Homo sapiens: one gene and its partner. Changing the gene in region 1 together with any one later gene gives a genetic interaction. Each region holds a gene or a part of one and is shown on either strand. Other genes may lie near its edges.

Region 1 (5,278 bases):
AGATGAGGAAGATGAGGCTCAGTGATTTGTCCCAGGTGAACAACTAGCAACTGGCAGAATTGGGACTTGAACCCAGAGATAGGAAAGACAGAGATAGGTTTGAGACAGGGCTTTGTACTGTTCCTTTGCCATAGCTGCACAAGAGGAAGTCCCTCAACTCTGCTCTCCAGATTGGGCCATGACACCCATTGGCCCTTGGCCTATTCCACAGGCATTCTTGAAGTGGATCAGATTCTGATTGTGCTGCTGACCACGGAGATGTTTGTGGGCGGGTGCCTTGCTTTCATACTTGACAACACAGTGCCAGGTATGGTTCGGTCCTGGGAGGGGAATGAAGAACTAGGCTGGACTCATGCACTCCAACAGATGGCCTCTGAGCTGGAGCTGTGTGGTTAGGTCCCATGCAATGCAGGCCCTGCAGGGAGCATCAGGAATAGATGGGCTGGTGGAGTGCTCACTGGCTGGAGGGAGAGAATGAGGCACAGACATGCCTCAGAGGTCTTGAAGAGGATGGGGCCGGAAGAGTCACTGCTGGGTCCTGTGAATCCTTTCCTCTCCACTTTTTCCATTTCTTTCCTTTTTTTTTTTCCGAGATGGAGTCTCGCCCTGTCACCCAGGCTGGAGTGCAGTGGTGCGATCTCAGCTCACTGCAACCTCCACTTCCCGGAGGGTTCAAGTGATTCTCCTGTCTCCTGAGTAGCTGGGACTACAGGTGGCTGCCACCACGCCCAGCTAATTTTCATATTTTTGGTAGAGATGGGGTTTCACCATATTGGGCAGGCTGGTCTTGAACTCCTGACCTCAAGTGATACGCTCGCCTCAACCTCCCAAAGTGCTGGATTACAGGCATGAGCCACTGCACCTGGCCTCCTCTCCATTTCTTAATAGCCACTGGGCTGAGGGATGTCTTTGCTTTCTTCAGAGTAGGACAGAGATAAATGCAGCATCAGTTTGTTGGCAAAATCCATCCACTCCAAATATGTCAGCAGCCTGCCACAATGGCGACTAGAAGAGCCACTAACATTTCCCTTTGGTACCAGAGCTTTTTGCAAAGATCGTGGAGGATACTTTGTGGGGCCCGCATAAAGATGCCAGTAAATATATAAAATAAATGTCACCAGGTGCTCTGATAACAAACAGTTAACATTTAGCAAACATATACTATGGGTAAGGCAGAGCTAAGTGTCTTACTTCATCCTCAAAAACCACAAAGTCATAAAGTCACAAAATTAAAACATCACGGCCGAGCATGGTGGCTCATGCCTGTAATCCCATCACTTTGGGAGGCTAAGGCGGGTGGATCACGAGGTCAGGAGTTTGAGACAAGCCTGGCCAACATGGTGAAACCCCATCTCTACTAAAAATGCAAAAATTAGCTGGGTGTGGTGGTGTGTGCCTGTAATCCCAGCTTCTCGGGAGGCTGAGGCAGGAGAATTGCTTGAACCTGGGAGGCGAAGGTTGCGGTGGGCCGAGATCGTGCCATTGCACTCCAGCCTGGGTGACAGGGTGAGACTCCATCTCAAAAAAAAAATTAAAACATCGCAAATCTGGGATGTATATTTTAATTGAGACAGGGTCTCAGACTATCACCCAGACTGGAGTGTAGTGGCACAATCATAGCTCACTACAGCCTCAAACTCCTGGGCTTATGTGACCCTCCTGCCTCAGCCTCCCAAATAATTGGGACTACCGGTGCACAGGTGCATGCCACCATGCCCGGCTAATTTTTGAATTTTTTGTAGAGACGGGGTCTTACTTTATTGCCAAGGTTGGTCTTGAACTCCTGGGCTCAAGTGATCCTCCCATCTCAGCCTCTCAAAGTACTGGGATTATAGGTGTGAGCCACCACACCTGTCCTCAATTTTTTTTTTTTGAGATGGAGTCTTGCTCTTGTCACCCAGGCTGGAGCACAATGGCGTGATCTCGGCTCACTGCCACCTCCGCCTCCTGAGCTCAACCGATTCTCTTGCCTCAGCCTCCCAAGTAGCTGGGATTACAGGTGTGCACCACCACACCCAGCTAATTTTTGTATTTTTAGTAGAGACAGGGTTTCACTATGTTGGCCAGGGTAGTCTCAAACTCCTGACCTCAGGTGATCCGCCCACCTTGGCCTCCCAAAGTGCTAGGATTACAGGCGTGAGCCACCACACCTAGCCTCTATTTTTAAATTAAGATGGGGGTCTATGTTGCCCAGGCTGGAGTGCAGTGGTTATTCACAGGTGTGATCATAGCATACTACAGCCTCAAACTCCTGGACTCAAGCAATCCTTCTGTCTCGGCCTCCTGAAGAGCTGAGAGTACAGGTGCATGCTATATACCATCTGGCTAAATCTGGGATTTTTAACAACATCCATCTGACGCAGTCAATGGCCTGTGTCCCATCCACTGCACCATACTGCCTCTGCTGGAGGGTTTCAGGGGACCTGGGCTGCAGGACTGGGGAAGGCTCCATGGAGATGGGAGTTAATGACTGCATCAGTATAGGGACATAAGGGATGGTAGTAGCAAGATGATGGGCCTCCATTTTGTCACTTACCAGCCTGATCACAGCCACAGGTCCTGTCTGCCTCCCTCTCTCTCAAGATCCAAGTGTTCATGTTCACATAACATAGGTGTCAGAGGCTGTCTCTGAACAGCTGGTGGGTTGGGGCTGGGGAGGACAGAGGAGGGCCAGGGTTCCCCGTAGGATTTTAGGCAGAATCAAAGGAAGGTGCTCTTGGTAGCAGCTGTCCCTTCGATGGATGGGTGGCTATTTGAACATGGTACCCCTGCCCATTTAGAGGATGCTAGACTGGGGGCTGGAACAGACCATCCTATGGGCCTGAGACAGTCAAGTGGCAGCCTCAATGCCTAGGGAATATGAGGAGATGGAGAGCATCTGGGTAGGCATCTGTACATGAAGAGGCTTCTTTGTGACTTGGGTGGCTAGTTTAAGCTATCCAGTCATCCTTAACAACAGCTGCAGAACTGCCTGAGTCCCTTATACCCCACATTTCAACCCACCTGAGCATCACAACTGTCCCTGCCAGGAATCATCCTGTGTGTCATGCCACATAAGCTCAGCAGTCTTCAGTATCCACTGAGGAACCTAAAGCTCAGGGGGGTTGTCACTTGCCTAAGGTCACACAACCTGGATTCAAACTAAGGTCTAGCTGGCTCAAAACCCTGTCCTTAACCATGGAATAGCAAAAGCCTTTTCCAGCCCTTAACTTCCTGCTGGGGATGGGCCATTTTGCATTTGTTTTTTTTGTTTGTTTGTTTGTTTTGTTTTTGAGACGGAGTCTCGCTCTGTCGCCCAGGCTGGAGTGCAGTGGCGCAATCTTGGCTGTGCCTCCCAGGTTCACACCATTCTCCTGCCTCAGCCTCCCGAGTAGCTGGGACTACCGGTGCCCGCCACCACGCCTGGCTAATTTTTTGTATTTTTAGTAGACACAGGGTGCTCTTTGTCTTTACCTATCCAGAGCCCAACCTTAGAGGGCAGTCCGTTTAGTTCAGCACATGCTGCTAGAGCTTACCAGCTTGGCCCTGAATCAGACACTGAGGAGGATATGCCAAAAAGTGTAAGTCAGTAACAATTTGTTTAGAGGAGCTCCTGGCACAAGATAGGTGGTAAAACTAGATTTAAGCAAGCAATGAAGTCAAGGAAGCCGGGCTGGAGTTATTGGGAGGGTTTACTGATGAGGGAGAGTAGGTGAGGCCTAGGAAAAAGGAGGGGGCTTGGAGAAGTACAGAAGGCACTGAAGGTTGGGATGTAGTGGGCAGGCTGACTGGTCTGCTAGAGGGAGCTCTGGGCTGGCTGCCATGTGTGTCTTGGCAGTGGTGCGAGGTAATCGGACACCAGAAACATAGTCCTACGCCACACCTATGGCTCATCCCACTCTACTGTGCCCACTGTGTGTGCCCTTTGTACAGCCAAGCCCAATCAAGGTTTCTCTTCCAGACTGTGTGTGCCCTTTGTAGAGCCAAGCCCAAACAGTGTCTCTTCCAGGTAGTCTTCCCTAGGGACTCCACCTTCCCTCAGTGCCCTCTCCTGTGAGATTTTGGAACATAACTTGGTTTGTGCTACTCATGGGTTTGTTCTCAGCCTGGGCTGCCAGCAAGTGGAAATTCCCACTCCTGCTAGATTTATAGTATTTCAGTCTTTGTCGATCCCAGCCCTCTTGTGAAAACCTGAGATCTCATGTGACCCTGCCCCACCTGAGGGAGAATTCCTAGTTGTAAAAATTACTAGCCCGGCTCAGTGGCTCACACCTATAATCCCAGAACTTTGCAAGGCCAAGGCGGGCTGATCACTTGAGGTCAGGAGTTCGACACCAGTGCCTGGCCAACATGGTGAAACCTCATCTCTATTAAAATTACAGTAATTAGCCGGGCGTGGTGGGTCACACCTGTAATCCCAGCTACTCGGGAGGCTGAGGCAGGAGAATCGCTTGCATCTGGGAGGCAGAGGTTGCAGTGAACCGAGATCAACCCACTGTACTCCATCCTGGGCAACAGAGCAAGACTCTGTCTCAAAAACAACAACAACAACAAAAAAAACACAACACAAAAAAACAAATTATTTGGTGTATCCCTACCTCCAAAGATTTTATTTAGCTTGACTTTCTGAAGTTTGTATTATAAAAATGAGTTTTTCACATATGGAATCATAATATGAAATATTAACACTGATTATAGTGTTTCAAAATATGCCTCCCTTACCCCCAGAACGCAATCTGGACTTGATTTGGTCCCCATGGGCCTAACACACATTACCACATACTCACAGATTTAGGTTCACAATTACTTAACTTTTTGTCCCTTTCTTCATCTTAAAATTTTGTATAGGCCGGGCACAGTGGCTCACGCTTATAATCCCAGCACTTTGGGAGGCCAAGCCAGGCAGATCACAAGGTCAGGAGTTCAAGACCAGCCTGACCAACATAGTGACACCCCGTCTCTACTAAAAATACAAAAATTAGCTGGGCATGGTGGTGCATGCCTGTAATCCCAGCTACTAAGGAGACTGAGGCAGGATAATCGCTTAAACCCGGGAGGAGGAGGTGGCAGTGAGCCGAGATCGTGCCAGTGCACTCCAGCCTGGGCAACAGAGCGAGACTGTCTCAAAAAAATAAATAAATAAAATAAAATAAAATAAAAATTTGTACAATGGTGTCTATACATCTCCCAGGGGTATGTTTTCAAGAAACAAGATAATGAAATTAAAGCACTTAGCACAGAGCCTGGCACACTGTAGTTACACAATAAATACTACTATAACTAGTATCCTTTAGTGTTC
Region 2 (3,676 bases), on another chromosome or scaffold:
TTTAAACCCTATTTTGAAAGAAAATTTCATTTTCCTTGCCTACAAATCTGAAAGCTGTACATCCTAAGTAAAAATCTATGCCTTAAGATAACTGTCCAGGCTAGGCACTGTGGCTTACGCCTGTAATCCCAGCACTTTGGGAGGCTGAGGCGGGTGGATCACGAGGCCAGGAGTTCAAGACCAGCCTGGCCAACATGGTGAAACCCCGTCTCTACTAAAAATACAAAAAATTAGCCGGGCGTGCTGGCAGGTGCCTGTAATCCCAGCTACTTGGAAGGCTGAGGCAGGAGAATTGTTTGAACCTGGGAGGCAGAGGTTGCAGTGATCTGAGATCGCGCCATTGCACTCCATCCTGGGCAACAAGAGTGAAACTCTGTCTTGGAAAAAAGAAAAAAAAAAAGATAACTGTCCAACAATGCTGTGGTTGTTTTTTTCATTTGTTTTCGTTAAAGTTTGTTATGGTGCTAGGATTATTATAAGAAGTGGGAACAATAGCTAATATTTATTGAGTGTCAACTATTTGCCAGGCTCAGGGCTAAGCCCTTTACACTCATTATCTCATTTAGCCCTGCTGCAAGCCTGTGATTCACGCGCTTTCATTATCTCTGTGCTAATGAGGAGGAAAGTGAGGTTCTGAGGTATGGAATAACTTCTCCCGAGTGGCACAGCTAATCATTGGGAGGACCAGCATCTGAACTTGGTTTCTCCTCTCACAGAGCCATGCTGTCATCCCAAGTGCTAGGGCTCTGCTCTTTTCACACTGTAGCCTGCACTGGTCTCACTGTGTTTTCACTCATCTTCCTACCCAGATGCACAAGTCTGGCGTTCTGAGGAAGGCCATTGATTACATCAAATACTTGCAGCAGGTCAATCATAAACTGCGCCAGGAGAACATGGTGCTGAAGCTGGCAAATCAAAAGAACAGTAAGTGTGCTGAGAAAAGGCTTGTCAGCCCTGGCCCAGGTGGGGCTTTGTAAAAGCAGATCATTTTCACCAGGTGGGGTTTTCTTTGCAGAGCTTCTAAAGGGCATCGACCTAGGCAGTCTGGTGGACAATGAGGTGGACCTGAAGATCGAGGACTTTAATCAGAATGTCCTTCTGATGTCCCCCCCAGCCTCTGACTCAGGGTCCCAGGCTGGCTTCTCTCCCTACTCCATTGACTCTGAGCCAGGAAGCCCTCTATTGGATGATGCAAAGGTACAGACTTTTGAAATCTCCTGATCCCTGGAATCTTTCCCATTTCCCCTAAGAAGATAGCTGGGAGGTCACAGTTATGAGGCCAGGCCGCATGTTAAGAGGGCCTAGCCTGGAGAAAAACAGGAATTCTGTGAAATTAGCCAGGTCCTGGAGAATAAAGAAAGAAAAAACTGACTCCGGGGGGAAACAGTCCCTCAGGTTTAACTGGTCCTTGCCGATAGGCCCCGTCAGAGAGGAATGAGTGCCAGATCCAGAACGAGAATGCAGAGTAGCTGTTGTGGGGGCGTTGGGAGCTGCTGGAGGCACCTCATTGCTTCACTCTGCCTTTAATGGGCCTGGCAAGACCACTTTGGGAGGCTGATCAGTTGGTTTAGGATGAGGCTGCCTCTGGGTCCTCTTTTCAGAAATGATTACAATTTGCAGTCTAACAGATAACATTTTACCTATGGGCCTTTAATCGTCAAAGCCCCTGGCAATGGTAGTTTAATGGAATTACTTAAGAGACGCTCTGAGCCTAATGATCTTCCTGGGAACCTGTAGAGACCACTGGGTTTTGTACTGTATTTTGACTTCGGCAGTTTCTGACTCTGAAAGCACAAAGTTCCCTCCTAGTGTTTGTTTTTGACTAAGCTGTTTATTGTATCATATACTTAATTTTACTAAGGAAGCTCCATTTTTGAAATATTCTTATAAATGTGGTTCTGTTTGGCAACAACAGGCTGTTTGACATATAAATTGAATTAGCTGGGCTTCTGAGTCATCAGAAGAAAATCTTAAATGGTTTTAAAATATTGAAAAGAAATGACATGCTATATACACATTGGGGCGCAGGGGAGATCTGGCTTCAGCCCTCCTGCTGTAAAATGGAGAGTGGGGTGGGTGTAGACAATGATACAGTTTTAGAACAGGTAAAATCCTTTAGATAGATTCACACTAAATACGGTCTTTGATCAACTTCATTGAGGTGTAATTTAAATGCAATAAAATATACCTACTTTAAAAGTACAGTACCAAGAGTTTTAACATAATGTACAGTGCTATGTAACTGTCACTGTAATCAAGATATAGAACATTTCCATCACCCCAAAAAGCTCTTTTGTACACCTTTGCAGGTAGTTTCCCACACCCCTCTCCAGCCTCAGACAATGACTGATTCATTGGTTTCCTGTTACTTTAGATTCATTTTGCCTGTTCTGGAATTATACAGAAACAGAATCATACAGTGTGTTCTCTTTTGTGGTAGATTTCTATTTTAAAAGAAAATCTCTTCTACCTTTGTTCTTTGGAACATGTACTTTTCTCAGTTAGCAAGCAGGTGAATGTGCCAATGTTTGAGCAGCAGTTAGTGAATTATAGGCTTCTCAGTTCCCATCTGGCCTTAGTCCTGAGTTAATCGACTTGAATTTAAACCTCATAACCATTTCTCAATATATATATATGTATTTATAAAGTGCTGTAAAAACCTATGCAGTATTTATTCCAACCTCGAGGCCTTGTTTTGAAGGTCAAAGATGAGCCAGACTCTCCTCCTGTGGCGCTGGGCATGGTAGACCGCTCACGGATTCTTCTGTGTGTCCTCACCTTCCTGTGCCTCTCCTTTAACCCCCTGACTTCCCTGCTGCAGTGGGGAGGGGCCCACGACTCTGACCAGCACCCACACTCAGGCTCTGGCCGCAGTGTCCTGTCATTCGAGTCAGGTAGGTGGAGGCCCCTTGCCCCACCTGGGCATGGCTGGACCACTATGGCAGGAGAAGGACCCTGTGTACAAACTTCTTGGCTTGGCTACCAGGTCCCAAAGGGCTTTTATAGTGGGCCCCCACCTGCTTGCTTCTGATAGGGACTGGCATAAGTTCCATTTTAGAAGTAACAAGGCAAGCCCAAGTTCAGTCAGAATGAGCAAAACAAATCAGGGACCCACACTACTCTAAATACCCTGGGGTGGAGGGGTGGTACCTATTTGAAGGAGGATATCGTGTTTTTTATCTGAGGTTGCAAAACCAATGCCTCAACCCTTTCAAAACAAAGATTTTTATGGCACTCAGCTCCATAATGAGAAGGGCTACAGTCATTAGCCCTGTTTAGATTATAGAATTATTTGCCCTTTCTTCTGAAAATGAGGTAGAAGACTCTTTCCTGTGATAGTGCTGGGGTCTGTCAGGTGCCTGGCTGCTCCGCAAGGCCTTTCCTAGCAGACTCTGCTGAGACGCTCCTTCTTAGGTTCTGGGGGCTGGTTTGACTGGATGATGCCTACTCTTCTCTTATGGCTGGTAAATGGTGTGATTGTCCTGAGCGTCTTTGTGAAGCTGCTGGTTCATGGGGAGCCAGTGATCCGGCCACACTCGCGCTCCTCGGTCACCTTCTGGAGGCACCGGAAACAGGCAGATCTGGATCTCGCCAGAGTGAGTTCTGTGTCCGCCCTTCCCCATCCTCCCCCAGACTTGACAAATAATTCAGCAACTCGTGTCAAAGAAAGTCCTAT

What was found. Genes that interact genetically often act in the same process or in processes that back each other up.
Region 2: changes in SLC23A1 (region 1) and SREBF2 together harm fitness less than expected from each alone (positive genetic interaction), as found in Homo sapiens cells (one large-scale study listed by BioGRID).

Annotation. Positions count from the first base shown.
Region 1 is NC_000005.10:139,372,431-139,377,708, reverse strand, and holds part of SLC23A1 (solute carrier family 23 member 1), read left to right. Parts: intron 1-211; coding exon 212-307; intron 308-5,278.
Region 2 is NC_000022.11:41,874,528-41,878,203, forward strand, and holds part of SREBF2 (sterol regulatory element-binding protein 2), read left to right. Parts: intron 1-809; coding exon 810-924; intron 925-1,015; coding exon 1,016-1,197; intron 1,198-2,701; coding exon 2,702-2,894; intron 2,895-3,414; coding exon 3,415-3,596; intron 3,597-3,676.